Linked DNA regions of Homo sapiens: region 2 is linked to region 1. The links come from fine-mapping of genetic effects on gene expression. A gene starts in region 1. The other region holds a variant in brackets. All regions are shown on one strand. Distances are from middle to middle. Region 1 holds the start of KCNQ1OT1 (KCNQ1 opposite strand/antisense transcript 1). Region 2 overlaps KCNQ1 (potassium voltage-gated channel subfamily Q member 1).

Evidence for each region.
Region 2: its variant is fine-mapped to the expression of KCNQ1OT1 in pancreas (GTEx, PIP 0.99).

The regions. Positions count from the first base shown.
Region 1 is chr11:2,694,095-2,709,373 of GRCh38, forward strand. KCNQ1OT1 (KCNQ1 opposite strand/antisense transcript 1) reads right to left here and starts at 5,900. Exons shown (of 1, transcript NR_002728.4): 1 at 1-5,900. The region is part of intron 11 of KCNQ1 (potassium voltage-gated channel subfamily Q member 1); the gene reads left to right. RefSeq lists silencers at 6,034-6,303, 6,314-6,383, 14,117-14,287 and an enhancer at 6,101-7,340.
Region 2 is chr11:2,722,541-2,737,819 of GRCh38, forward strand. The region is part of intron 11 of KCNQ1 (potassium voltage-gated channel subfamily Q member 1); the gene reads left to right. Among named protein-coding and RNA genes, the nearest start is that of KCNQ1OT1, 30 kb to the left of the region's middle. RefSeq lists enhancers at 391-1,291, 1,292-2,191, 2,367-3,362, 9,208-9,377, 12,145-12,646 and 1 more and a cis regulatory region at 14,248. The variant A/T (reference allele first, on the strand shown) is at 8,360.

The DNA.
Region 1 (15,279 bases):
CAGCCCATAGGTTGTGGGACTGGAAGTGCTTGCCAAACAAATTATACTGCTGACCAGGGAAGAGGGTACTCTGATTGGCCAGGCCTGGGCCAGGGTCTTTCTCACCGAGGTGGTGAGGCTATAGGTGTTAGATGTGGCAGGATGCAAGCCAGGGCCTGCTGCCTTTAAAGAGCCACAGCAGAGACACCATCCCAGTCCCAAGAGCTGTTCTAAGGAAGTGGTTGTCATCTGCGGTGCCCCCCAGGGGACATATGGCAATGTCTGGAGATATTTTTGGCTATCATGACTATGGGAGAATTACTAATATCAACTAGGTAGAGACCAGGCAGGGTGCTAAACATCTTACAATATAAATGACAGCCCCTCACAACAAAGATACATCCTGTCCCAAGCATTACCAGTGTGGCTGGCTAAGAAACCCTGGTTGCAAGGGGTCAGATTTTGACATGCTATTTGCTTTCTCACTGAGTTGTGAAAATGGAGGCACACTTTCCTGGCCTGGCCTCTTCCTTCGTTCAATAAATGAATGAAACCATTCAACAGAAATCTGTGACACACCCACCATGTGCGGACCCTATACGGAAGACAGATATGCTCTCTTGGGGCCTCTCTTCCGGTGGAAGAGATAGGCAGCCAACAAATAAGTAGATGTCTAAGGAACTAGAAAAGCGTAGCCTGTGCTTTGCAGAGACTCGAAAGGTAGTCGTCAGCTAGTGAGTGACTGAAGGGGATGACAGATATGGCAGGTCAGAGCAAAATTTCCTGTGAGATTTAAATAAGAAGAAGGAATTGTCAAGGGAAGATCACCAGAAAAGACAAGCCAGGCAGAGGTGGTGAAGGCCTTGGGGCAGGAGGGATACTTGGCAGATTTAACAAAGAAGAAGAAGGCTGGCAGAGCCAAAGCTCAGTGAGGGAGGACAGTGGTCAGAGAGGTAAGCAGGGCAGATCTTGTAAAAACCTGATGGAATTTGAATTTTATTTCCTAGAAATAGAAGCCACTAGAGGGTATCTGGCAGGAGAGTCATGGAGGCACATTCATTCGTTGGTTCTTGGCTTTTGGGACTCTGCACAGAGTTGATCACAGCCCTCAGCCTATGAAACACTGTCACCCTGTAAGGGTCTGCATAAAGTCACCGCTCTCTTCCTCTCCATGCTTTTCCACTTCATCTCTAGCCTCTATCCTTGCTCTCCTCCCTACACAAACAGCTTCTCCAGGGTAATTTATTTATATCATTGTGTGTGTGTGTGTGCACTCACGAGCACTCCCTAGTACTGCGTGTCTGGGTGGTGTGTAATTTTAATTTAAATACACAGTCATGTACTGAGGCCCTCTTTCTGTTTGGCATTTGTGTCACTCAGCACTGTGTTTCCACGCGTCTCTATCTTGTGAAGTGTACATCTAGTCCCCTGCTCCTAACCACAGTGACCAGCTCCAACTGCCCACCCCTATGGGCCATGCTGCCCTGAGCATGCACACACACAGCCTCTCGTTGTTCTGGGTGAGAACTGCTCCAGCATGTTTACTTAGGAGGGAAACTGCTGGGCCACAGGTATAAAATATTTTATTTGAGGAAGAAGTGTTGGCCAGCTCTTCAGAACGTCTGTGCCTGTCTCCGTCCCCACCTGCAGCACACAGGGAGGCTTGTTCCTTGCCTTCTGCCAACACTTGGCCTTATCCTACTTTCTAATGCTTCTCCTATGAAGAATAGCTGTTGCTTTCATTTACATTTCTCTGATAACTGATTAGCTTGGGCAAATTTTCATCTGTTTGTTAACCCTCCTGCAAACTGGCAATCTTCCTACCTTTTTCTTAATGATTTGTGGTGCTTTCTGGTATATTTTAGCTGTTGTTCCCTCCTCAGCTTTAATTGTTTCAAATATCTTGTAATGAGTCATGGCAAAGTTACATTCATGAGTGTAAAAGTGAAAAACGCAAATTGTTTCCTTAGTATTATTATGAAAACAGTCTTGACCCTTGCCATGATGGATTTATTTAACAGAAATCCTTAATCCATAATCATTAATGCATTCAAGTTCATACATTTTAGTCTTGAGGTTTGTGCTTTCTGGATCCTGTTTAAGAACCCCACGGCCACCCTGGCCCTGGAGATTATTCATTTTTTCTCCTATTAAACAAATGGCAACTACCTTTTGCTTTCAAATATTTAGTCCATTTGGAGTCTACTTTTCCTAGGGGCTCAGTTAGGAATCCATATTCCTATTCCTCCATTTTAGGGCTGGCTTTCCAACATCATCTTCTGAACAGTCCCCACTGATATGTGGTGCCACCTTTATCACATGTCCCCTTCCTCTAGACTTGGAGTTACCTCTGAGCTCTCTTCTGGGCCTCTGTCACCACACCGCTCTGATTGCTGAAGTTGGCGTGTGCCCTGGTATCTGCCAGCAGAAGTCCTCTGCTCTCCTTTTCAAAAGTTCAGTTGGCATTTACAAATATTTTTCTTCCACATACATTTTAGAATATGTTTGTTAAATTACTCAAGCCCTCCAACTGGAAGTTTGAGTGGAGTCCTGTTGAACTTAACAGATTTGGAAAATCCTGACGTCATTCTAATGCCAAGTTGCCCTGTTCAAGAAAATAAAATGTCTCTGCATATGGAAAGATCTCCCTCTATATCCTCCAATAGAGTTTTAAAATTTTTTCCATAAAAGTCGTCGTCTTTGTTAATTCCTAGACTGGTATAAATTTTGCTGCTATTCTGATTGCTGTCCTAATCTCTATTATGCTTTTTTTTAGTCAGTTGCTATTGGCATAAAGAAATGTGGTTTGTTTTTGTTTTTTGTTTTGAGTACACTGATCTTATATCCAAAACCTCTCTGAAATCTGAAATCTCTCTTTAGTTGTTAAGTTCCTTAATTTTTTTTTTCCATGTAGCCCAGTAATTTTCAAAGTGTAGTCTGGGGATTCCAGAGAGCCCCCCAGACCCTTTCAGGAAAGGTCAAAAACATTTTCATAATAATACTCGACATTATTTGCCTTTTCTTTCATTCTCACAAAGATAAAGAGTTTTCCAGAGGCAGCACACCATGACCCCAGTGGAATATGTGCTTGTATAGTTCTGCTTTAAACATTTCTTAGTTTTAACTTCTAAGATGGTAACTATCAACAGATAGAATCTCTATCAAGAAAAGCCCTTTGGGGGTTTCAATAACTTTTAAGAATACAACAAGTCGTAACACCAAAATGTTTGAGAATCTTTATGGAGACCATCAACCCTATGAGCTACACTAAGTTTTATCACTTCCTACCTGATCCTCACATCCCCATTTCTTTTTCTTGTATTAGGGTATGGCCAGGATGACATCCTTGGCCTACTCCTTATCTTAAAGAGAATGATACACTTTTAATTTCTCTATCAAGTTTACTGAAAAGTTAAGTTTTGGTTTATAACTTGTATCAAGTTGAAGAAGTTCCTCTCTAGTCCTGGCTTGCTAAGTGGTGTACTCCACTACCCCAAAATCACACATAGGCGTTAAACTTTATCACATCATTTTTTTCTGCCTCTATTGAGGGAACCATATGGTTTTTCTCCTGTAGCCTCTTAATGTGAATTACATGGATAAAGTTTCTGATATTGGATCATCTTTGCATTCCTAAGAGCAATCCCACTTGTTTAAGAATTGTTGTTTAATACATATTATTGGATTCAGTTAGCTAGCATTGTACAAGGAACTTCTGCATCTACATTCATAAGGGAAATTCTTTATAGTTTTCTTGTGCTTTCTATCTGAATTTGGACATGCTCTGATTCGCAATTTTAAAAAATCCCTCTAGCTGGAGCATAAATCCTGAAACAGACCCACTTTTCTCCTCAGCATGTTAGGAAACACATTAAAATACACCCATAATCAAGCAACTCAATCCTTAAATTTTTCTCCTACTGAGTATCTGGAAAACAGGTGCAGAAATGGATCATTTGAGACACCATAGAAATCTGGTTAATCCTGCCTGCCTGCTTTCCTTCAAGTACTGACTGAGTAAGGCTGTGTATCAGGCTCTTGGCTGGGTACAGAGCAGGCAGCAGAAAACAAAACAGAGTTCCTCGTTGGGAGCTTTTGGTCTAGCAAAAGGGGCACCACAGTAAAGAAAGAACTGGTAAATGCACATCAAATGTGGATATTATCAGGAAAGTTTTTATACTTTGTGATAATCTAAGACAGAACTATTCTACCTGGATGAATTATTCTCTTTCATAACCAGAACAGTGCTGTGGGAAGGCACTCTTACTCTCAATTTTATATAAAAGGCTATTTGACCTGCTCAGGGACCACAGTGGGGTACTGGGATCTGAACATAGTGGTGGCCCTTCAAGCCTACTACCCAGACTGAGACCTGCATCTGATCAACTCTCATCTCCAATATGACCAAGAGACTTCTACCACTACCTCTCACCTGGCAGGTGATCACCACCCCCAACTCAGACTGCAACCTTTACTTCGCCCCCTAATTCCTGACTCAGAATCCCCACCTAGAGGCAGAACTTCGACTTCAATTCCTGACTCCCATACCCCACTGAGACCTCTAACCCCAATCCCAATCTCTTAACTCAGAGCCCCCCATTCAGAACCTCTACCCAAAGACAGACTCCAGACCCTGACTCCAGTCGCCAACTCGGACCTCCCTTGGATCTCAACTCAGAGCCATGATGCAGACTCCAGACCGGGATTCAGGTCCCCAACTCAGACTCCCGATCCTCTGTCCCTAATGAGGCCCTACCTAAAACCACCATGCGGACTCCAGACCCGGACTGACTGGGACCCCAACTACTCAGATCCCAACTCAGGCAAACTCCCAGCCAGGATGTGGACCCTAGACCCGAATTCTGATCCCAACTAGGATACCTAACTCAGAACCACAACGGGGATTCCCACCTCCGATCCTAATTCGGGCCCTGACTCAGAACCACTAAGTGGATTTCCGACTCCGGTCCCAATTCGGGCTTTGACTCAAAACCACAACATGGATTCCCAACTTCCATCCCAATAGCGCGGACTCAGAACCACGATGCGGATTCCAGACTCCAATCCCAATTCAGCCCACTCTGAACCACCATGAGAACTATAGACCCGGAATCCGATCCTTGGGACGCGGCCAGGAACTCGGACCTCGACCCTGGCCACGCTGTCCATAAGGTGCAGATGGGAGCGCACTGCCCAGGCCAGGCTGCACTGCTGACGCCTGTGATCTGGGACGGCCGCGGGGCACACAGCTCACCTCAGCAACGCCAGTGATCACCCGTCCCGCGCCGTCCGCCCAGGTCCGTGCTGACCGTGTTCAAACCCTCCCAGAGAGATGGGGAGGGCCGCGCTGAGGAGAGTCTGGGAGAACCGCACTGAGGAGCCGCCGGGAGAGTGCCGCGCTGAGGAGCCCCCGGGGAGAGTGCCGCGCTGAGGAGCCCCCAGGAGAGTGCCGCGCTGAGGAGGCCCAGGGAGGACCGCGCGGAGGAGAACCATGCTGAGGAGCCCCCGGGGAGAACAGAACCGCGGCGAGAGGCCCCCGGAGAGAACCGCGCCGAAGAACCCCCGGGGACAACCGCGCCGAAGAACCCCCGGGGAGAACCGCGCCGAAAAGCCCCGGGTGCCCCGAGGAGAACGGCGCCGAGGAGTCCCCGGGGAGAACTGCGCCGAGGAGCCCCCAGAAGAGCGCCGCGCTGAGGAGCCCCGAGGAGAACCGCGCCGAGGGGCGCGCCGGGGAGAACCACGATGACTGACGCACCGAGGAGGACCGCGCTGAGGGGCGCACCGGGAGAATCGTGCTGAGGAGCCCCGGGGAGGACCACGCTGAGAGGCACCCCGGCAGAATCGCGCTGAGGGGCGCCCTGGCAGGATCTTGCTGAGGAGCTCCCTGGAGGTCCGTGCTGAGGCGACGCGGCGACCGTTCTGCCTGGAGACTGCGGCAGCGCTCCGACTGCCCCCGCCGCTGCCGACGTGGCGACCGCCCCCCACCTGCTGATTGGGCGGCAGCAGGGGAAGGCTTGCGGCGGGCTGCTGCACGGATTGGCTGGGTGCGGAAAGTGATGTGCCGTGTCCTGTCATTGGCCGAAAGAGTCTCGTTTTGATGCCACCCGGGCTCAGATTGGCCCAGCGGGTCCAGCGCCGCATGAGGCACTGGCTGGGTGTGAGGTGGCGCGAGCCGCCGCCCTCCCTGCCCCCACCCGTCGTCCCTGAGCACCACCGGGGGCCGGGGCCAGCGCCAGCCTCAGCGTTGGCATCGCCGGGGTGAGCTGGAGACACGGGCCAGTTCTCTGCGTGATGTGTTCACCACCCCGGGGTGACCGCGTGAGGACAGCGGCCGCACCCCGACACTGCTGTGGGCCCTCGGTGTGGAGGCCTGTGGGCGTCCAGGCCACGCCCGAGACCAGCCCCTCCGCCGGCGCCGCTGCAGCGACCCTCGAACCCGGGCAAGGTCTCCACCGCCGTGGCACCGGGTGCGGGAGGCGTTTTCCCCCCTCCCAGCGGGTCCATGCAGGGGATCGGGATGTTCTGAAGCCCCCACTGCTGTGCCTGGAACACCCGTGTCTGCCGCTCACCCCTGAGGACTTGGGACCTCAGGGGGTGAGTGGCAGGGGTGGCCGGGACATGCCAGGCCACCCACCTGGCAAAGGGCAGCGCCGAGGGCGCCCCGCGCCTGCCAGCGCCCGGCCGGGCCCGCCCTGCCCACCTCCCATCCCCCATCCGGGCGTGACACTTGACCGCGTCTGCCGGCCCCTCCCCTTGTCCGTCCCCTCCGCGCCGCTGGCGCGCGCCTTCTGAATGCCAAGCATTGCCATAAACTCCGGGGACAAAAGCCTGGGTCACAAAAGCCCCCTCTAGAAGTTCACACCCTGAGGCTTCCCTGGCAAGGCTGGGGGCCGTTTGGCCCTTCCATGTGGACTGCAAAAACAGTGTTGGAATGCAGGACTCTGGGTATGTTCTCGAAAGTTGTTACAACCCCAACCCAGGGTTGACCTCAAACACAGGAGGAAGGGGGAGGCTGGAGCCAGCCAAGCGAGCCAGCCGTCCCCCCACCAAGGCACGCAAGGAGGCCATTCATCTTCACTGCCTCTGCCGAAAATATACGTCTACGGGAGAGCCAGGAATCTCTCTCCAAGGGTGACCGGGTTGGGGGTTTTGTTGTTCTTCAGCCCAGAAGAGAAAGAGAAAATGGTGTCATTTTTTCAGGCAGCAAGTGATTCCTTTCAGGCCTTCAGCAACGACGCCCAGATGAGTCCACTCCCTGCCTCCTGCTCAGCCCACAGGCAATCTGGGCACAAGTGACACATCCCCTGGGCGCCTGTCCCTTCGCACTGGCCCAGGGAGTTCATGTGTCTGATCAGAGGGCGCAGTCCACCCTCACTATCTAGCTGGGAAGTTTTTGTCATCTGCCTGTCCGAGAGGCAGCTGTGCAACCAGTGCCATCACTCAGAGCCAGTGCTCAGGTGCACCCCAGACTCAGGGTTTCACGCTATAATGTCACTGTCTTGAAATTCTTGATAGTTACTATCTTTGAACTTGTGTTTTAGAAGTGAAGTCTGAGGGGAAAATGGAGCTTGGAACTTCAGCTCCCAAGTGGCTTTCCCACCTTCCTGCCTCCTCAGGACAGATTATCAGCTGCCTGTCTGCCTGCTTCCTCTGTGCCCAGCCTCTCTCTTGACATCCAAAGGATCACAACTCCCACTCAGTGACCACTATTATTCTCTGCCCCTGACCAAAAAGAGCAGGGCAGGGCTGGAGTCCTGACCCTGGCCTGGACTCTGCAATGCAGAGATACCTGCAAGTCTCATTTCCCCGCCTGTAGGATGGAGGTGATGCTGACAGCCTCTTGGAGCCATTGAGATAGGAAACGAGAGAGATTATGTGAGAAGACAGGGTCAGGAATGTTGAGTTGAGGGTGGCCTCAGGCCCCTGTCCTGCTCCTTTTTGCTGCTTGGGGTGCAGCTCAATTCCAGCCTCACTGTGGCCCCCAGGCCTCCTCTGGCCTTCCTCAGCCTTCCTCAGGAGGCCAGAATCCTCCCCTGATCACCCTCCCTGCATGTCCATTTCTACCTCCCCAGGAGGTCAGGGGAGCAGGATCCCAGGTCTTCAGAGTCATTTCACAGATTTCACCAGAATAAAAGTCCCACTCATGTGGGGTTTACATTCTGGTGGGAAAGACAGATTTTCGAAACGTGGCCATTTTTCTTTGGGCCTTTGTTAGCTGCATCAGATGGAGGAGGTAGCCTGGTGGACTCCTTCAGTCCTCGCTCTTGGACACAGAGCTGTCTCCCAGCCTTTGTTGTTGTGTTCTCCAAGGATGTCGAACACAGGCTGAAAAGCTCCCTAAATCAATTTCACTTAAAATGGTGTCCACCCTCCTACTAAAGAGTGACAAAGGGTGTTGGTTAGGATTTTTATCTTGAAAACTGATTTGTAAAGTCATGAAAATTGAGCTTATTTGGTCTTACACTTAACAAAACTGTGGGTTCTAATTGTGGGCCTGGATGGGGACATATCTTACAAGTAGTTGATTCATTTATATAGATTTTCATGTTCTGGGCTTGCCTCCACCCTCTACCTAACCCTGGAACCTCAGACCCCAAGCTCCTGGGCACTTGGATTTTTCCCTGACAAATTCCCCGCCTGTGATATTCCATGGGCACCTCACCTTGTGTGCTTGTGTGAGGTCTCCTTGAGTACTCTTAGCAGTGGGGTTGCCAGGCCAAGGAGCCTGTCACTATTGTTTGTGACCAGCTCACCAGACGTGGTCAGGAAGGACAGTTCTGTGTCCTATGTCCTCTGCTCCTCACCCCCTCGCCACACACGGGGTGCCGTCAATCAGCCAGCGCCGCCTGCCAGCCCAGCGCACCTGTTGTGTGCCCCCACTCCCGCCTCCTCTAGTCCTTTGGGGGAAGAGTGGAGAGGAAAACAGGCCGAGACTGAGAGGGGTTTGTTGTCTCGTCGGGCGACAAGAGACACGTGGGAATTGGCTAGAGAAGCATGTGAGGCTGGGCGGACTCCAGGCCAGCCCCAGAGGCAGATGGGGGCTGCCAGGCAGGCTGGGAGGTGAGCCCAGGGCTGGCCTTGGGCACCATGGCAGAATTCTGGGAGGGGGCTGCAGTCACGGCCAGCTCCCTTTCTGAATTGTTCTGTGGGTTGTGGAAGGCTTTGAAATTTGGCGCCTGCACCTTGTCACCTTCTTGGGACTCAAGGCTGCAGGGGTGGGTGTGAGACAGAGAGCCTGGGCACCTGGTGGCCACTCCCTGAGCTCCCCACGTGACAGAGGGCAGGTCCCATTCTCCTTTTGTGTCTGGTTTGCCTCATCTGTACATGGTAGGGGCTGAGCTAGCGTTCCTTGCACTCCCTCCAGCTTTACTCTTTGGGGTTCAAAAGGTTCCCTTGCAAGCCTGTGCACCCGAGAGCACGCACGCACACACGCACTCACAGCTGAAGAGAATTAGGCTCAAAACGTCCACTCGGCTTTTCTCTTGATTCCAAGGTATTTAGAGTGGGGGTGGGGGATTAGGGGAGGAAGTTGCTGAGCTAATTCTTTTGCATTTGCCAGCACAGAAGTGCAGATGGGGCCCAGAGCCCCGGCGGTGTCCCAGGGGAAACACCAGTCCTCTTCTGCAGTGCAAGGCAGGAGAAAGAACTGCTGTGGGAGCCCCTCACCCAAGCAGCAGGATGTGTGGCAGGCCCTGGCCAAGGAGTTCTGTGGGCCTCAATTCTCTCCCTACCCTGCCCCCACCCTCGGAGTCTAAGGGTGGAACCATCTTCAGACCCAGCCAGGTTCCCAAGTTGCTGCTTCCCTCGGAAGCTGAGAGGCCCAGGGCCACGTGGCAGCCTCCGCAGTCCATCTGAAGAAAGGCCCCACCCCACGCTGCTCTCAGGAGTGGACAGGAACGTGGGGGAGTGGGGGTGGTTAGGACCTCAGGGTTATCCCTGAGTGGCTGATGCATTGCCAGGAAGCCTGCTCTTAAGGTCAGCCCTTGCAGTTGGCAGTCTGTGGCCCCTCCTCGGTCCCCTTCAGTGAGGCTTTTTGCATGCATTGGTCCACACACCCACCACTGCAGCTGTCCTGGGTAAGGGCTCTGTGATCCTGCAACGCCCACCTTCTTCCTTCACTGGTCATAGGTTTCTGCTGACCCTGCAGCCCATGTCCTTGTTCCAGAATCTTCCGCCTCCTGTGGCCTGTGTGTCGCCTGCACCTGCATTCCACTGGGGCTTCCCTTCCAACTTGATGGTTTCAGGTACATGGGCCTGTTGTCAACTCTGTTCCCACTGAGCCCATGAGACGGCTATTCCTTTGAGACATGTTTACTTGACTTCCTGCCCCAGGTCTCTGCTGTACCCACAGGTGGCATGGACTCATGTCCCCACCCAAATCACATCCCCACCAGGATGGGCAGGCTCTGGGTCCTTTTGGGCCTTGTAGGCTGTCGTCAGAGGGGAGGCACAGTGGGGAGTCTCTAGGAGGTTTTGGGCAAGGCAGTGCCAAGGATCAGATCTCCCTTCTAGAAAGGTCACTCTGGCTGCTGAACAGAGAGAGAACTGAAGAGAGGCAGCAGGGTGAGGGGGAAGACTACGGGGGACTTGCCGTCACCCAGTGAGAGAGATGGGAGGGTTGGAGAAAGCGAGCATCTGTGGAGGTGTGAGAAGTGCCAGGCTGGGCTCCCTCAGGCGGCAACTTTGTCTAGACTTCTGGCTGAGGACAGGGAGGAGCTTAAGGTAGCCCTCAGCATCCAACAGGGGTAGCAGCCTAGTGCATGTATGACCACGAGCGAGCCCAAGGGAAGGACGGGTTTGGAGGGTTTCTGAAGATCTGGCTTGGATATAGTGGGGTCAGACCCTATCCCTCCACCCAGCTGCAGTGACAACTCTGTGGCTCTGGGGCACTGTCACCCTGTGGCATGGCCTGTTTGTGGTGTCCATTGCCGTCTTAGCTACCCAAGGCCCAGGGAGAGGCACACGGCTCAGGCTGACAGAGTGTGACAGATGCAGGTCCTGCTCCCTCAGGGAATCCCCCATTCCAGGACAGTCTCAGCCCCCATGCAAGAGCAGCCTCAGCATGGGCTGCTCGGGGAATGCCCTCAGACAACAGTGCTGTGTTAGGGTCACTCCCAGCCTGTCCTCACAGGCAGATTTGCGTTCCTGCATTTGGGGTCAGTGATAACGTGAGGCCAGACGGGTGGGGGGTCTGGAGTTCAGGCGGTCTCCATGAGTGGCAGCACGGGGTGTGGGCCAGTTCCCATTGGGAGGGCAGCTGTGCTGTGTGTGTATATGTTTGGGCATTGCTCAGCCAAGCCTTGATTAGCCGAACCCAACTCTCCCAGAGCCCCCACTTCGACGCGGGTTAACTCAGCAGCTGTCTCCTGAGCACCTGCTTGGGGCCTGGTTGGGTGCCAGGCACGGGGGGGTGGGAAAATGAAGTGAACTGGGCCTGCCAGACCCATTGCCTGCAGGGCCTTTTCTACCACCACCTTCCAGAGGCAGCTTCCTCCCACAAAGCATCCCAAGCTCGGGGTGTGTGCCCCCCTTCCTGTGCAGGCCTGCCACTTCCACAGCTGCCCCCCAGCCAAGAACAATCCCCTCAGCCTGCCAGGGAAAAGTGGGCCCAGGCCTTTGAGGACATTGCCACAGCCAGGGCCAACCTGGGAAGTTGTTTCTGATTATCTCTTGAGTCCTGGGAGAGGTGTTAACAAAAAGCCCCATCCCTGTCGCTCTGGTGGTTATAGTTTGTTTTACGCATTAAAAGGCCCTGGATCGGTATTTGTAGTGAGAACAGATATTTGCAGAGAGCCTACTCCATTCCCAGCTCTGTACTTGTAGAGGGTGAGGCTGCTGAAATGAAACCCACCAGGCCTCTGGTGAGCAGTGGGTGCAGAGTCATTGGCAGTAAAGGTCCTTAGAGAACCTGAAGAGAATATTCTAATCAAGCTAGGCAGGCTCAGAAGATGGATGTAATTTGGAGGAAAAAGACAAGAATGGGAAAGAAAGGGAAACCTACCTGGGGTACCGTGTGGCTGTGGTGGTTTTAGTATGTGTCTACAAGGCCTTTGACAATCCGTTCTTCCGGAAGTGGCACTTAATTCCCCTCTAATTAAGTTTTGGCTGGACTGTGATTTGCTTCTTTCAAATAAAATATGGAAGAAGTGACAGAGCATGACTTCCAAGACTAGGCCTTGCAGCCTCCCTGCCCTCTCACTGGGATCACTGATTTTGGGGGAAGCCAGCCACCATGGTGTGAGGACACTAGCAGCCCTCTGGAGAGGTCCTGTGGTGAGGAACTGAGGCCTCCTATAAATGGCCTCCTGTATGAGCTTGGGAGTGGATCCTCCAGCCCCAGTCAAACCTCTGATGAGACAGCAGCCCTGGTCTACACCTTGACTGCAGCCTCACAGGAGATCAGAACCACCCAGCCAAGCCACCCCCAGATCCCTCGCCCACAGAAACCATGTGGGATGATAAATGTGGGCTGCTTTAGGAATGAAGCTGTAGGGTGACTTGTCACACAGCAAAGGCCAGCTGACAGAGCCACCCACTCTCACCAGGCTTAGTCTGACCCTTGTCAGGGGCAGCAAAGTGGGCTCAGCCTACCTGTTGGCTTTTACTGATGGTTGGTGGCTCCCAGGAGAAAGAGTACTGTGCCCAGGTAGCATGCCCACCCCAGGCATACATAGCATGTCTTTGCTCTTGCAGAGTTTGAACTCTGCCCACCAGACCAGTGGCTCTTAACCTAGGCTCCTCGTGAGAACCACTCCCCGGTGCAGGTCCCACTCCCAGAAAGGAGAGCGGTTTTGACTCCTGCAGTCTCTAAGGCAGCAGAGAGCTGTGGCATTTTGGGTGGAGTGGGTGGAGAGGGTGCGTGATGGGTGGGAGAAACTGACAGTTGGAATGTGATTTAGGAAATGTAACGGGTGACCTTTTCTCCCCAAGAGAACACCAAATCCATTTCCTTGGGACATGGATAAGGCTAAGGGCAGCACCCACAAGGACCAGGAGCGGGGTTCTCAACAGCCACTTCTGTCCCAAATTTGTTTTCTATGCCCAGGAATGTCAAAGGGCCCTCTTGGGGTCAGCCACAGAGAAGGGGGAGCAGGTGTGATGGGGTGGTGATGGGATGCTGTAGGTGGATGAGAAGTAGCACCAAAGCTCACTACTGTTTTTCTCTTATCCCTGGGTCTTGGGGACAGGCCTGTGCCAGAAGCAGGGATTGCTTCTGCTGTAACGTCCACTGGAATAAAAAGCAGACATTGCAGTGTTGAGAAATTCCTTTAGCCCTCAGGAGGCAAGTTACAGAACAGGACAGAACTGCCCTAGTCAGGCCCTGCCTGGGCACAGAGCTGCCACCACTCTTCCAAGAGCCCTCCCTTTTGGGGACTGTGCCCCCACCCCACCCCCAGGCAGCCCCTGCCTCCAACCTTACTCCTAGCTGGTGTTCTGGGCCGTCAGTTCATAGGTCCAGCTCTGAGACCTGCCAGGCTCTCAGAGCAGCCTGGACCCAGGAGAGCGATAAATGGATGTGCACTGGCACACTCCAAGCAGGGAGGCTTTGTTTATCTCCCAATTAGTCCTGTAGCACTTAGTATGTCAGGCATGGTTCTGAGGGCTTCATCCACACTACCACCCACTGTAGAGATGGGAAAACTGAGGCATAGCAAGGTCAAGGGATTGGGCAGGCCTTAGGATGTAGAAGCTACTAGAGCTGGGCTGCACCTGGGTATCCTGGAGCCAGGGTCTATCCCTCCCCCTCTGCCACACGGCCTTGGTGTGAGGGACACAGCCCCTGTTTGCAGAGGCAGCTCCTTTCATGGAGCATGGGGGACAGGGCAGGTGTGCCTTGGCCCACATTTGGCTTCTTGAGCGCCGAACCTGCATGTGCCACCCCCCAGAGTTCCTGTGTGTGGCCGGGTGAATGTGCACAGGTCGAGGAGGTGGTGTGGGCAGCCAACCTCCCAAAGCACCAGGCCCCTCAGGGCTGTTCCCCTGTTTCCCAAGATTTCCCAAACAGATGGCCAAGATCGGGGGCACCCAGGAGACCACGCTCATGAATTGTTCCACTTGAACACAACATTGTTTTTTATGGAACTGGGCTGGGGAGTCCTCTGTGACTCTTTCCTCAGTAGGGAGAGAGCTCCTGAACCCACCGTGCACACTTCTTCAGCAGCCGCTTTGGAGACTTGACTTTGACACTCTTCTCAACAGGATCCCTTTCCTCACTGGTGTCTGCGGCCCGGGCCGCTGGCATGGCTGAGCGGAACTTGGCAAAGCAGTGAATTGGGAGCTCACTTAGGCACGTGGTCCTGAGGCTCCTTGCTGGCGTTTCTGTTTTGCTCCCTGCTCCTTTCTTTTCTTTGTAACTTCTCTTCAGGGCACCCACAGCCCCCGAGGAGGGTGGGGCTGAGGAGGCTGGAGGTGGAGCCCAGGCTTATCCCCCTGGTGGGCCAGGCAGGCAGCAAAGGGACCAACCCCAAGAGGGTCGGTGCGGAGACCCCTGGGGTGCACAGGGTGGGCAGTGACCAGAAGACTCACCCCAGGGCCTCTAATTTTGACCCTTGATCTGGGTCTAAGCACCTCTGAGCAAGAGGTGAGGGTTTCAGGCAGCCTCAGCTCTTAGGAGGCAGAAGATACAGTTTATACGCGGGTTGCGGGGGGCGGTCCATTTCCATCTCCCTGTTCTCTCCCCAGGCCAATGGCCAGGGCTAAAGCCCTCCTTGGGACATGTCAATAGCAGCAAACATTTTAAAGATGTGACATGTTCGAAGCCTGGCAACAGGGGCAGCTCCAGCTGTGCGAGAACATGGCTGGATTTACGTCTGCGGCAAAGCACCCGGTCACCTTTCTCTGCTTGGAGTGCAATCTTTTTTTGGAAGCCCTGCTGGAAAATCTGAATCTTGTGAGCCATCAGCTGTTTATAATCAGAGAAGCATATGTTTAAAAGAGCTGAGGGGCCTTATAAACTCCGTGTGCAAATTACCTTTGGGGCTGCCTGCTCCACCGCCCCTCCCTGAGGCTGCCATCACTGGCGAGCGGCTGAGTGTGCTGCACAGAATTCGCTGTAACCCTGTTGTGGCACGGGGTCTGTTTAGCTTTAGTCACGTCAGCTTGGCCCTGGAGCGTGGGAGCCTCCATCTCTCCTGCACGGCTTCCAGGCCCCCCCCACCCCCACCCCCCAGCCCCAGCTGCAGAGGACTTCTGGCTCCCTGTTCCTGGGCTTTCAGCATGAGAAATATCAAACCTGGGAACCGTGCAGCAAGAAGCGGGCAGAGGCTCAGACGCCAGGACCTGCGGGGGCTTCCTGGAATT
Region 2 (15,279 bases), 28 kb after region 1:
GCCACGGCTGGTGGGTCCCACTGAAGCTGAGAATAGAACTGGCAGTGGGGTTTGGCCACATGGAGGTCCTAGGGGAGCTGATGAGAGCGATGCCGTAGCCAGGGTCGGCAGTGGCGGACCGAGAGTGCTTCCCTTCTCACGTGGTTGGGAGTCATGACCTGTTTAGTAAATAGGCTATGGCAGCCTCTTGGAACTTAGTGAGGTGGCTAAGCTGCCCCTAGATAGCTGTGCCCTGTGACCAAGACCCTTCCTCCCTCCTTCCCTCTACCCCACCAGGCTCAGCCAACTGACACCAGGGCCCTGTGAGGCAGTATCTGAGCCACCCTTCTGAGTGGGAGCTATGGCAAGTGCTGCCTTAGCGGAGTGGGGGTGGGGGCATGTGTCACTCCCAGGACCAACTGGCAGATGAAGGTCTTTGGGCACTGCAGCTGCCACCTGGGGTGCCTCGGGGCAGGCTCACCTCACACCCTTGTGGGCCAGCTGCGGCCCAAAAGCCTCCTGGCCTCCATTCCCGTGCCAGGGTGGTCTGAGCGGAGAGGACAGGGGGGATCCCAGACGGATCCTGAAAACAGGCTCCGCCTTCCTCTGTGGCTCTGCCTTCCTCTTGGCTCCGCCTTCCTCCGTGGTGGCCTGAGAGGGGTGTGGTGCTGCTTGTCCGTGGTGCTCCACACACCTGCCACAGCTGCTTACCCCACTCCCTGCCGCCCTGGACAAGGTGCCCACGGCCCTGTCCCATTTACCGTTGGGGCAAGTGAGGGACGAGGAGGCTCCGCAGCCTCCCCCGGGACACTGCAACCCTCAAGACTCCTAGCAAGCCCCTCCGTCTCAGAGCCTTGGTGTCCCCATCTGTAAAGTGGGATGTGACAATACCCTTCTTGCTGAATGGGCAGGGAGAGAGGAGCTGTTAGGTGAGACCAGGTGGTACTTGGCAGCTGTGGCACGTGGAAGCCCTACACAGGCAGCCCCACACCTGGTCCGCTGTTCTGTCCTTACTGTAGCAGTGGGCCTGGAGGCAGTGGCATTTAGAGAGGACCCTGAAGTCCAAAGAGGGGATGCCAGCCTCAAACTCAGCAGCTCGAAGTAGCAACAGCCTCGAATCCCTCACACCTAGCGGTTGGCTGGGCAGGTGGACTGGTCCGAGCTGAGTGGTCTAGGATGGCCTTGCTCCCGGAGAAGACCCTTGGCAGACAGCCTCTCCTCTACTAGCTAGTGGGGCCTCACTAACCGCTGGTGGCCGCAGGGTTCCCAGCCACTCGGTGCACATGTACTCCAGCCTCTCTGTGTCCCATTTGCTCATGACATGGTGGTCAAAGCAAGTCACGGATTCCAGGGGGACCTCGGGACGAGGAAGTCACACGTTGGGGGATGTGCCGCAGGGATGGGGCATCTCAGCCTTTGTATCTGCCGTGGGCGTGGAGGCATTTACTCTTTTCACCGGGGGAGCAGAAATCAGAACATGGCTCTCTGTGTCTGACACAGAGCCCTGTACTCCATCTATGCAGCCCCCACCACCTCTGCACACAGCCCCTCCGGTGGTGCCTGGGGGCCCAGGCTTTTGATAGAGAATCACATCTGGACCAGGACGTTCTGGTAAGATCGCCAGGGGGCCGCGACAAGGAGACCAGGAAGGAAAGACAGAAAGAAAAACACGCACAGATCCAGGCTCAGATGATATACAGTCCTCCTCCCGGCTCAGGACCCCTTTGCGGTGTCACCTTTCGGCATGTAACCACTTATTCTGTCAGGGAGGAGAGCCCTCCCGCTCCACCAGGTGACGGCCCTAAATCCTCAGGAGTGACAGCGTCCTCCCGCCCGGATTGGGTTTCTGCACAGTGGAATGGAGCTGGCAGCCAGGGTCCCTGTCCCGCCAGCCCTAGGCCTCGAACCCTCCCTGGCAAGCTAACACTGCCCTTGGAGGAAGGAGGGTGGGAGGGCAAAGAGAGAGAAGTGGTGGGTGGCAGCGAGCAGGCTGTCCTGCAAGGCCGTGGCTGCACTGAGGGCAGAAGGGGCCTTGTCACCTAGGAAGGACCCCACTAGGAACCCCTTCCCGCGGAAACACAGCTTCTCCCCTTGGGTGCCATTGCAGCTGCACCCAAGCCTTGCCCTTCCCTCTCACTTCGCTCCCCAGGAGGCGACACTGTGATTGTCCTGGGCTCACAGAGGAGGACGTGGGGACCTGCCCAAGGAGACACAGGCAACAGAACCAGGGCTCAGAGTTGGGGGAAGGGGCCAGTTCACCCACAGAGGGTGGAGTCACTGGGCTGAAGCTTCTGGCCATCGTATGGAGCTGGAACAAGGCACTGGAAGGTACCAGGCCTCAGCGTTCTCAACTGTGAAATGGGAACACGGTGGTCTCTGTCACAGGGTAGAGATGACTGATCCAGTAACCTGGACAGGGTGCCGAGGGCAGGGTCTGGTGTGGCTATCAGGAGCCACTGGATTGGAACTTGGTGTGCCACCAGGGTCCCTGTCCGTTTAAGAAAAGCCTGTGGGCCCAATAGAGAAGCACAGGGTCTGAGAAGCATCAGACAATGACTCCTAAACAAGCTCACGTCTTGAAGCAGTGCTGGACCCGTTTCAGCTCCAGGGGAGAGCCAGGGCAGGGTGGGGCAGGCACGGATTCCTGACGTGGAGACAGGAGGAAGCCGACGGCCATCTGTGCTCAGACCCAGTGGTGAGCCTAAGACAAGTTCCCAGAATCCATCCGGGACAGACGGCTGGACTTGTGAAACACTCCAGGGTCGGGGGCTCAGCCACGGGACCAGCGCTTGCCAGAAATGTTCCCAGCTTTTTTGAGTTCGTGAGTGGCTGGTGGATACTTAGTGGTTTGGCTTTCGGGTTCCTGCCTTCCAAAACAGGAGAGGCAACTTGGCCTGCTTTTTCCTCAGAAGAGCCCACTTTTTGCGTGGAGGTGACCTGCCATTTGTCCGGTTGGGGGTCCCCAATCGTCTTCGAGCTACTGATATAGAACCTCTGCGTTTAGCTGTGGTTTAGGAAGTGCATTCACGTGAAGTCGCCAAGTTCAAAGGGCTGCCCCTGGAACCCAAGTCAGACTTGCCCTCGCCCCCTTCCCGAACGTACCCTTTCCATGAGGCTGGGCGCCCTGCCCTGCCTTCAGTGCCAAAGCCCCAGGCCCACAGGCTGTGCACTCCAGCCGAGGGCAGCCTGGGGAAGGTACGAGAGATCACTGGGCTTTGTGAAACCTGTCAGCTTGTGTGAAAGCTATCTCCCCCAGGCCCCACCCCCGCCCCCACCCAAAGCACAGGTCACCTGCCTGGTTAATCATCCTGGGCTCTGAGAGCTCCCTGGGGCCCCACAGGCCAAGCGTTTTCTGACTTGGAGAGGCAGGAGGCCAACTCCCCGCTCCTCAGATTCTGCTGAACTAACTGAAACCCTAACCTTCGGGCTTCCCCACTAATTTGTGATAAGGCCTCGCCAAGAAAAACAGCAGGCTAAAGACCCCTGATTTCTTCATGAATTCCAGAGCACTTGGTTCACTCCGGCAGAGAAGGGGCCCCAGGCAGCCATGCATACAGAGCCACCTCTGCGTGGGTGAAGGGCTGGGGACGGCCTCTTGGGAGCCCACTAAGGAGGACCACCTGCCTGCTCCAGGCAGATTGCTTCCAGCTGGCCAGGGCAGAGGAGCAGGCCAAGGGTGGGTCCCGGGCAGTGGCCCAGAGAAGCTGAGCTCGCTCACGAGATGTGTGCTGACGTGGCAAGATGGGCGGGAGTCTTCATGAAGGAGTGGCTGCCTGGCCCCCTGACCTGAGGATCCTAGGGCCCCTGGATGGGTTTGGGGGAACTGCAGCATCCTCAGATCACAGACGGTGTGTCGAGTGAGGGTGGTGCTCTTCCTGGGCCAGCAGTAGGTTTCCAAAAGGGCACAGACACAGCTCAGGAGATGGATGCTGCCCTGTCAGAGTGGGGAAACTGAGGCCCCAGGCGGAGACACCACCCACTGCAGGTTCCAGCCGTCCCCCACCCCACCCCTGCCCCACCATGGCTGATGTGAGGGAGGTGGCCAGAAGTCCAGAGGGACACTGGGTGGGACCCCGGTGAAGATCTGGTGGACTGAGGCCAGAGAAAAAGGGGATGACCCATTCCTAGCAGGGAGGAATAGTAGTTTATATTTTCCCCCAAAATTTTATTTTTCTGCATTGGCCTGAATAGGAGCTGACTTTAATACGGGGGAAATAGTGATTTTAAAGCCGGCTTTCCCATGGAATGTGCTTCTCCTGTGACTGTGCCCATCTCCTCACTGCTTGGCAGAGAGGTATCCCCCGTGCCCCACTGGCATGGGCGCCAGGTCTGCCCTTCCAGAGGCCCCTCCCAAGTAGCTCCCAGCAGAACACTTGAAGCCCAAAAGCAGTGAGAAAGGGAACACATTTGCCTCCAATCCTGACTCTCCAAGCCCTGTCCCTGCCCCCAGGTGAAGGGTTGGCCCTGGGCATGGAGGTCGGCAGCAGGGAGGGGACACTTAAGCCACTTGGTTGGGGGTTTGTGCTATGCCCTTTCCTCTGCCCTGTTAGGTTTGCTTCTACCTCTTAGGTCCTGTGATATATCTGCCCCTGTAGGAGCGAGACAGACATAAGCCAGATTTCAGGAAGGAGCAGCCATGGGGCAGTGGGGCTCTGGAGCAACAGAGGCCTCAAAAGCTCAGCGTCTACAGATGTTAGGGACAAGGAGGCAGCTTGGGGGATGTGCTCAGGCCCTGGAGGCAGACACATCAGGGTCTGAATCCCAGCTCAGGGGCCCAGGGCAGCTCAAGCCCTCTCTGAGGTTCTGTTTCTTCATCTGTAAAACAGGGACAATCACGGTAGCTACGTGTGGGGCGCAGGACGGCACCCAAGGATCATTCCTGTGTGAGTCAGGTGTCAGGGACCACCAGGCCTTGTGCAGGAACATGGGGTAGTGTCCCTGGGGGAAATCCTACCCCAGACTCGAGGAATAAAGAGGAGGAGGAGGTTGCCTGAGCTTAACAGAATGATGGCTGTCTGACATGAGGCTCACAACTGGCCCCAGCAGCTCCACGGCAGGGAGCAGGAGCAGACACCCCGGATCCGCTCTCCTCCCTCCTTGCCTCCTGCCAGGGGTCCAGTTGGCTAGACCCAATCTGAAGCCCTGGGCCAGGAGCTTGTGGACATAACCTGCAGAGATCAGCCTCCTAGGGCAGAGTGAGCTGAATGGAGAAGGGCTGTATGCAGAAGGGCGAGCAGACAGAGCCCAGGATTCCACAACGGTGTCGATGTACAACACCAAGCACCTGGCCTGGTGTGGGCTCGTCTTGCACTATGAAGGGGCAGGGACGTGGCCAGGCATTCGTTCCTCTGTGGGCACTGTGGGGCTTTGCTGTGGAGGCAGAGGGAGCATCTGATGGCCCCCGGGGCCGCGCTAGTCAAAGCGCTTCATTTCCATCATATGTGGTGCAAAATCTAACCCTCTTACCCTGCGTGAGGTTCATGTGACCGCTCCCGCTCACCTCCCAGCCTCATTGCCTCCCTGTTCCCCTCCTCCCTCCCCAGCCACTCTGGCCTTCTCCTCGTCCTTCAGCTCCTTCCAGAGTGTTCTTGCCCAGGGCCTTTGCACAAATCCCTTCCAGGACTTCCGATGGTTCTGTCCTCCCCTCACACAGGCCTCACCTCTTTTGCCCCCTCCACCTCTGGAGCGGCCACTCGCCCACCCTTCTGCCCTGACTTCTCTGTGGCTTCCCAAGGCTCTTCCTGGCACCTCGTAGGGTAAGTCCGACCCCAGGTGGCTGTGCTCTGAGGCCAGGGCCAGGACTCTTGTTCACAGTGCTATGCCTGACCCGGCGCCAGCCCTCAGGGGACCACAGCCGGCTGAACGCCAACTGGTTAGCTGCTTTTTCTATAGGACCTACCGAGCGTTTGACTCTAGAACCGGGGGTTGGTGCTTGGTGACAAGAGCTAGGCTGGCTTCCTACTAATTCTGCAGCCTCTGGCTTGCTAGCCTCCCGCCCACTAGGGTCCAGGTCACTTCCTCTAGGAGATTCTAAAACACTCTGGCACAGCCCACCAGCAGAGCCGGGCCTTGGGAGCGTGAGGGCACGGGGCCTGAGCCTACTGCATCCTCCCAGAAGCTGGCCTACAGGACGGAGGCTCAGGGTGGCCAGTTGGGCATGGGGTTCTGCTGGCCCAGAGTGCCAGGGGGACAGGAAGTCCCTGAGGGCTCCAGCTGCAGGAGGAGCATCTCAGGAGGAGCTGAGGCCGGAGCAGAGCGTCCTCCTGGTCCTGGCAGCCCTTGGCCCCTCAGCACCCCAGAGGGCCGGCCGCAGTGGATGCTGCTGAACCACCAGAAACTTAATCTATTATTACACAGAAACTTCTGTGCAGTCAGGGGTTTGAAGTCCCCAGAAGTGTTTGCCTGATTTGGGGCAGATAGCGGGGTGATTAATGCTCGTGATAAGGTGTTGATTGGTTCTGGGAGCCACTGCAGACACAGGGGCTGTTGTGCATGCAGGGCTGGCAACTGTAGTCACAGAACAATAGCCCGTTTATGTAGCACACTCCCACCCCCCGCCTGCCCCAGGCGGGCACAAAGGGCGCTCGGGCCAGGAACCCATGAGCTGGGCTCTCCCGGGGCCGAGGGTCCAGACCTGTTGCCGAGAAGCTGCTTAGCAAGGCCTAGGGGCAAGGGCTGGTCTGGCCTAGCTCTTTCTCCCTTGAGCCCCCTGCCACAGGGCTAAGGCCATGCTGCGGGCTCGAGTGACTGCCCTGGACGTGACAAATCTCTGTGCCTCGGTGCCCACACCTATACAATGGGGGTAATAAAGTCCCCACATTGTAGCACTGCCAGGTGGATTAAATGAAAGAAGATAGTGAAGTCCTTAAAGTGAGATGTGTTGGCATTTACTCCACAAATACTGAATGCCTGCTCCAGGTGCCAGGGACAGCAGTGACAATACAAAACTGATACGAAATTCCAAAGGGATGTCCACCAATGGGAGACGTATAAGGGCTCTGCATCCATGGATTCAACCAACTGTGGATGGAAAATGTTTGGAAAGAAAGTTGCATCTGTGCTGAACATCTGAACTTGTACAGGCTTTTTGTCTTGTCGTTATTCCCTAAACAATAGAGTGGGTCACGCAGCATTTGTGTTGTTAGGTATCGTAAGTGGTCTGGAGATGGGAGGATGTATGTGGCCTCCATGTCAGTATCACACCATTTCGTATCGGGGGCTTGAGTACCTGTGGATTTGGGTACCTGCGGGAGGTCCCCATGGGTGCTGAGGGACAGCTGCACTTTAGTATTTATCTACAGAGTGCTTGGAAGGGAAAACAAAGACAGGCAGGGCTGGTTTGGGGAAGGGGCCTGTTGTGGATGGGGTCGTGGAGGACCTTACAGTGTCCCCAAAGCGAGGTGAATCTCATGGTGTCAGGGCTAAGAGCATTGTGGAGAGAGGGTACAGCCACAGCAAAGGCCCTGAAGTGGGGATGGGCCCACAGGCTGGCAGGACAGCAAGGAGACCCATGTGCTGGGACCCCGAGAGCTAGGACACGTGAAGCCCTGGCTGGCCCCGAGTGCGGTGTGGTTGGCGCAGATGGCAACAGGGTCACTCTGGCTGCAGAGCCAAGAATGGACCACTGAGGGGCTGGGACAGACCTGGCAGACCAGGAGGGAGGCCACTGCACTAGTCCAGGCGGAGGATGGCAGCTGGACCAGGAGGGCGAGGAGGAAGTAGTAGATTCAGGACTGTTTTGAGAGGGACCATTTTAGCTTCTTACGGCTGCTGTAATGAATTCCCACAAACTTAGTGGCTTTAAGTGACACGTTTATTATCTAACAGCTCTGGAGGTCAGATGTCCGACATGGGCTACATTCAAGGAGCCAGCAGAGCTGGTTCCCACTGGAAGCTCAAAGGGAGGCCCCACCTCCCTTGGCTTGTGGCCTTTCCCCACGGCCCCCTTGTCTCTGCTTCTGTCCTGCGCTCTTCACAACCTCCCTTCCTCCCTCTTTCTCTTATGGGGAGTGCAGGGGTGATCTGGAGGAGCCGGTCAATAGCAGCGTGGTGGGGTCTGGCAGAGACAGACTGCAGGGGGCCTGGGAGGCCCCAGGAGGCAGGTGGACTTTGTCCCTAGGCATCCAGTGCAGAGGTGAGACCTGTATGGCCACAGAGTCTCCCTATCCAGGCCCCATTACCCTGGGGGAGGCGGATTATGGTATGAACTGCTGCAGGTGGTCCAAGAGGGGCTGCCCCTGGGAGACGCAGGGTTCTTCAGTAATGGTGGTTTCGAAGGGCAGAGGAGGGAAGAATGGAGGGATGGGGGACAGACGCTGGAGCCGTTTTGGTGGCAGGCCTCTGTGGCTGTGGCCAGAAGCAGGGCTGGGCACCAGGCCAG[A/T]TGGACCAGAGGCTGCCCCCAGCTGAACCAACTACAGAAATGAGAGCCCCGGCCCAGCCTCCTCCCAGCCGCCGCTCTCTGGGAGCCCAGCTTTGCTCATAGAAAAGGAAGGCCCTTGTTGCCCTGCATTGGGAGCAAACACTTCCTTTGGCCTCACAGCTCAACCTTGGACCCAAAGGTCCTCAGGGACCTGGGGGAAAGAGAGGGCAGCCAGGCACCTCTGTTCACGGCAGGGGCTGCGTTGCCCAGCCTGGCAGAGGGAGGCAGCCCCTAGGTACAGTCCCCTGTGCCCACTCGAGGGGGTGCTGAATTCCTCAAGGCCTGAGTCAGACCTGGTGCAGCTTCATAAAGCCAAGGGTGGCAGGCGGAATCCAAGGGGCCTCACCGCCCATGCACCCCACTGTTGCATGGAGAGAACAATGCCCAAATGCCCTCGTCCCACAGTCGGCATGCCAGACCCCTCGGGAATTCAGGCCTTGGTGAGTCTGGCACATTCCGGCTGTGTGTCAGCGGGAGAGGCCTGGGAAAGGGAGCCAGCACTGCAGGCCGCCCACCACACGCCCACTCGGGCACCGGACACAGGGAAGGCGGACACCCAGGGCGGCCATCTCTCGGGACAGGAGGTGCGGCTCCAGGTTCTCACCCAGGAGAGGGCTTTCCTCCCATGTCAGAGTCCCCTTCGCTGCTTGAGGCAAGCCCTCCGGAACAGACCCATCTTTTGGGGGACCCTGTGGTCATGGAGATCAGGTTCCTAGAATCACCCCCAGCAGCGCACACAGGAGGGCCTGAGGCCCAGAGAAAGGCGCCTGAAGCAAGGGAGGGGAGGGCTGGTCCAGAGTCCCTGTCCCCTCTGCCAGCCACCCAGGAGGCTCCTATGGCCCCATCTCCCAGCTCTTCCGGGTGGAAGACAGTGGTGGGTAACTCACTCAGCTAGAGCGTCTGATCACACCACTGCAGCGGCTGCTCACAGCCTTCACCATCAGGACCACAATTCTGAGGGCCCTTTGGATGAAGCCATCTCACAGAGCTGTCTCCTGCAGAGAGGAGAGGAGAGGGAGGCCGCCTTGCCAGCAGGGGACCAGCGAGGTGTGGCCTGCAAGCCGTGGGCTCCTGTGTTCCTTCCTCCCCCTTCAGAGGAATGGGAGGAAACCAGGCTTGAGTTCCTGATTTTTGCCCTTTAGGGTTTTTAAATTGTGGGAGAGCCAGGAGTGCCTGCGTGGTGGCCTCTGTCGACTCCATTTGCTCTGAAGCGGGGCTGCGGCCAGGCAGTGCCTCTCAGCCTTCTGTTTGGTGGGTGAGGACGATGCTTGGTCTTGCCTCAGGAGCATTGCTGGCACCTCTCATGTGCTCCTGGGCCTCTCCCCAACCCTCACCTTGGCATCCCCCAATATCCAAACAATAGTCCACAAAACAAGCTGCCCCGTGGGCACTGCGAAGACCCTCGGGGCCAGAGCCACTCCCTCAGGGTGCTGAGGCCACCAGCTGGGGCCTCCTCTTTCCACACTATTCCTGACGCCTGGGCTGGGCAGGGGACTCCTGGCTTCGTTTCTTCCCTCGCCTTTGCTGGGCCATCTTTCAGACCTTGCCTGGTACCTTCTCTCCCCGTGCCAAGGCCTGGAGGTGATGTGGATGCAGCCGGGCAGTGAGGAGCGCAGGCGAATGTTACAGCAGGCGCGAGCGAAGGGGCCCGAGGCACCGGTGCTTCCGACGGGGCCCGAGGGCCGTCTGACCTTTCCGGCCACGGGGCAGCAGTTGCGTGAGCAGGAACAATCGCCCCAGTGTGCAAGGCACAAGCGGCCTTTTCTTCCTCACCGGGCCGGCGCACACAGCTCCCAGCCTGGCTTCCCTTGAACAAACATATTTATTGTGGCCGCCACCGAGGCCTCGCCTTGCAGCCGGAGCCTGGGGGCCTCTGTCCCACCCACTGGGGCCCAGGGAGGGGACCCCTGCCCTGGCGGTCTCCCCTGCCCCATGGGCCCCAGCCCCATCTTGCCTGAGGCAGGGGTGGCTCTGGTCCCACCCACCCTCTGGAGGCCCAGAAACTCGAGGCTCCTGCTGGGGGCTGGTGACCACCCACAGGCAGCAAGCCAGCCAGGGTCCTGGGAAGAGGGGGTCTGGGACACAGCCACACCTGAGCCCATCCTCCACCTGGAGCCAGCCCCTTACCTTCTGGAGCCTCAGTTTCCCCCTCTGTAAAATAGGAGGCATCACCCAGCCTTGCACGTCTCCAGTGTCCCTCAGAACGGCTCTGGCCCCGCAGCTGGGGTCTGAAGAGCAGAGCCCTGAGCTCTGAGATCCACTCCCACCCCCACCCCCACCCCCAGGCCTCTCTCTGCCTTCCCTAGTGCTCCTTTGTGTGTCCAGAGGGAAGGGGCATCCTCCATCAGCACTGACCCCACTCAGGCCTCTCAGCTGCACTCAACACAGGGGCTCCCCACACTCGCCCTCCTTCACTGCGACCCCGACCCTCACTTTCCCACAAACCCTCAGTCTCCTTTGCTCAGCTTCCTTCCAGACAGGCTGGCCCAGGCCCTCCCCACGGCTTGGCTTCCCTGGGCGGTGTCAGGCAGGGACAGCAGCCATAGGTGGTACCCCTAGTGAGGGGGACTCATTCTAGTTGCAAAGATACAGGTAGAGCATAGGGACCCCAAAGAGTAGCAGGGGACCCCCGAGGTTGCTGCTGGCAGCTCCTAGGGAGACAGTCGGGCACGGTGGGCACCTTGAGAGGAAGAACAGCCAGGCCTGGGCAGCCCTGGGGGAGGAGCCAGGCCAAGTGTGCTGCCCTCTTGGCCTCAGATCTGAAGCTATAGAGCCTCCTGGAGGGCAGAGGCAGTGGAGAGGGGTCTAGCGGGCAGGAGGGGGACTTCAGGCCTTCCACACACACACACACACACACACACACACACACACACACACTCTCTCACTCTCTCTCTCTCTCTCTCTCTCTCTCTCTCTCTCCCCCCCCACTTCAGGGCCTTCGCGCCCGCTGTTCCCCTGCCCTGCCAGGCGCACCACCCCCGAAACATGCACACGCTCTCCTCTTCCCTGCTTAATCCTCTTGAGTCTTCAGGCCTCAACCCACGCTTCCCCTGAACATCCTCCTCAGAGCAGTTGCGCGCTCTAAATCAGGACCACCTTGCGGTTCTCCCAGCCCCAGCCTTGCCTTTCTAGTGGTTCTGGCCTCTGATCACAGGCACAGTTTCAAGCTTGTCTAGCACTGGCAGGGGTGGTCCTGCTCCGGCCCCAGGGCCCGCAGGTGTGTGTGAGAGGTGCATGGTGGACGTCCAAAGAATAAACGAATGAACCATCCAAAGCACAGGCCAGAGGCAGATTGGGAGGGTCAGGTCCTAAGAGGCCTCAGGCCGGAGCCCAGCTGCAGAGCAGGGCAGGGGTGGCCAAAAGGCGCCTAGAAGGCTGGACTTTCCGTGAGGTGGCGGGGAGCACCAAGGGTAGAGGCAGGGGAGCAATGGATGGGTTGAATGAGGAAGCTTCACAGCCCCCCGGCCACCGCAGGTCGGGGGAGCACTGTCCCCGGGGCCCCGCAGCCAGCTGTGCTGGGCAAGGCAGGACGGGATCCTTGGTGATGGGCAGAATGTGGGGAGCAGGGTAGGACGGGCCCCTTGGCTGAGAGCCAGATGTGGGGAGCGGGGCTGTCGAGGCTGATCTCAGGATGCTTGCTGCGGCTGCTGGGTGGGGGATAACAGGGGTTTTCCGAGGCCCTGAAGGACTGGAGAGTAGGAGCAGGTCTCGGGGGTAGCTTCCTGAAGAGATGAGTCAGGTCCCAGGCACATTCAGTGCCAGCCAGGGAGGTGAGAGGTAATCCTGGAAGCTGCTATGTAGACAGAAGCGAGGGCAAGACCACCGCTCCTCCGCCATAAACCGTGTTGGATGGGCCTCCTGCCTCCTCCAGCCTCAGTTTCCCCCACTGTGAAATAGGGATGACCTCCTGTGCTGGGGCCTGGCTGTGGCTTCCCAGGCCCCGGCTGGGACCACCGCAGAGGTGATGTCTCCAGGAGGCTTCTGGGCCAGCAGCATGTTCCAGTGCGACACATGTGCCCCGGAGTGGCCGCGTGCCCAGCCGGCTGTGCACGCTGCCCCAGGCTGGTGGGGTAAGCGCCTCGGAGGGCACACTAACAAGAGGCACATGTGCCAGGGAAGCCCTGCCTTGTCATCACCTGTGCCGTGGCTGTCAGCGCGCATCTGGCTTACATTGAACTCCCCCATAAAACGTGTGAAACCTGACAGCAGCGCCGCAGCAGGACAGGGAGGGACTGTGTGTGAGAGCCAGGGAAGGGCTGCTCAGGGGGCTCTCCTTGATGGTGACCCCCTATGAGACGCCACTTGCCCTGAGGCCCTGGGGGACAGCCTGGCCCCTGGATGGCCAGAGATGCCTGGGGCCCTGGGGTGGGAGGTGGGGACAGGCTAATGGCAATTGAGGCCCTGCCCGGTGGAGGGTGGGCCATGGCCGCCCCCACCTCCCCTCCCGCAAGCTTCTCCCCTTCCTTCAGAGCCCAACCACTGCTTGCTCCTTCCCACCCCTCCTAGGCCAGGGATGCCTGAAGCCACACTCCACTGCATTCAGCCACCGTCCTGAAGTGCCCCTCACCCACCCATCCACACCCCGCAGGCATCCTAGGGCCTGGCCCACCACCCTCTCCCTCCTCACCATTTTCTGTTGAGCACACTTGAGGAGCACTTGGAGGAGCTGGGGGATGACATGAGTCCACTCCGCTGTCACCACCAAGACCACAGTGGGGCAGTTTAAACAGCAGGCATTCATCCCCTCACAGCCCTGGAGGCTGGAGTCCAAGGTCAAGGTGCTGCAGGGCTGGGTCCTCCTGCAGCCTCTCTCCGTGGCTTGTAGACATCACCTTCCCCGGTGTTCTCATGGGGCCATCCCTCTGTGTGTGCCCGAGTCACCTTCTCCTCTCATAAGGACCCCAGTCAGGTGGGATTAGGGCTCACCCTTATACCCCCATTCTGCTTTAATTACTTCTTATAAGACCCCATCTCCAGACACACAGTCACAGTCAGAGGCAGGAGGAGGTGGGTGAGAGGACCCCACGCCCTTCCTCCAGTGTGTCTGGAGCCCCTTCCCTGTGTACAAAGGGACAGAGAAGCGAGGGGGCTCCTTGGCCCTCCAGTATGTGTGTGCAGAAGGCCCATGAGCTGCCTGGGGTTGGGGGGTGGTCCTTATACATACTTTAGATGCCAGAGGGGGCTCATTGGGCAGAACCTACCTGGGAAGGGGCCCAGGCTTCCTGCCTGCCCTTCAGTTTACCCTGTGCTCCCAAATCTGAAGGAAGCCTTTCCTAACCAGCAGTCCAGGGGATTAGAGGACTGGGACCAGTTGAAACTCCATTCTAAGTCTTGGGGACCTAATGGGATTAAAGGCGACCGAGCTTGGGCCGTATCTGGGATCTGGGGCCCACCGGGGGCTGTGAATAGTTGGAGCCCTGGAGTGCCGAGGGCCCAGGTCCCAGGCCTCTGGGGAGTCTGGATTTTTTGGAGTCTTCCTGAGACTTGTGACCAGTGGGCTTGGGAGAGCCTGAGGGGCCTCTGGGGTTAGACGGTGGCCCCCGTGCCTGGAGAGAAGGTGCACTTTGGGGATGGGAGGCGCTAGGTGCCAATGGCCCTAGGAGGGGGCTTTGGAGCTGGACCCTTGAGGGAGTCAATGCCAGCTCATCGCCATAGCGGCTTGCTTAGGGCCGTCCCTCCCACCCCCCAGTTACACAGCCTGCAAACCCCAACCTAGCCCCTTCCAGGTGTCCCTTGTGATCTTCCGCCACTGACATAGGTGTGGCCCAGAGCAAAGGGCGGCTTCCCATTTCACCTGCGCATCTGCAGCTGGTATGCGGCTGCCCTGGTGGGTTCCTGGCTGGCTGGCATGCGCCCTGCGCCTCTGCTGGGCCTGGTGGGGCCTAAGGGTGAAAACTCGGTCAAGATAAGATGCCCACGGCTCAGGGACCCCACAGTCACAGGTGGGGAGTGGCGCAGAGCCTGGGCCTGCCTCGGGCTACCCTGAAGTGCCAGCCGAGGGTGGCTGAGGAAGCCCAGTCCCGACCCCCACCGCCTGCCTTCCCAAGACATCCTGAGTGCCCCTCGCCAGCACTCCCTGCTCGGGGATCCCATTATTCCAGGAGGAGGAGCCAGGGGTACCACTTTCCATTAGTGGGTCCAGAAGAGATCCCAGCGGGAAGGGGCAGCCTTCAGGGTAGGGCAGCGGATTAGGGAGGACTCCCCCAGGAGAGGAGGAGGCAGGCAGGGAAATTCTGGGGGGAGTGTATTCCACAGGGTAAGCAGAGGCTGGATCCCGAGAGCATCTGGACTTGTTCCCAGGGCACCCAGCACAGAAGTGAAGGGGTGCCGGTGGAGAGGGAGAGCCCCGGGCAGCTGCTGCCGTGTGGGTGGATGTCCGGCCACTGCCCAGCCACCTCTCTGTCCCAGGAAGCTGCTCTCCTGGGGCATGTGCACCTCAAGTGGGTGCAGCAGGCCCAGACCCACGGGGGCCCCTGGAGGCCTGCTGGATGCCCGCGAGCTGCAAGGAGTTAATTCCTGGCCTTGTGGGCTGGCAAACTCTGACTCACAGAGCAATAAAATTCTTGTGTTTTAAAAATCAGTATATTAGCTTAATTTTATAGATTTCAGAAGTGCTACTTGAAAATAAAAGTCTCCTAATTATATTTATGATCCCAACGTGAGTGAATTTGACTCCGTTCACGGCGAAGAAGCTTTGTGTAAAATGCCGGGAAGCCTTCGTGCTGACTCGGCCCTCGCAGACCATAAAACACGGCTGGTGGGTCCGAGCCCGGCAGGGATATGGGGTCACAGCAAAGTCCCTATTAATGCCATGTCCACCTCGCTGCCAGGGAGAGTGGGGCTGCAGCAGGGTGCGACCGTCACAGCCCTAACTCTGTGAT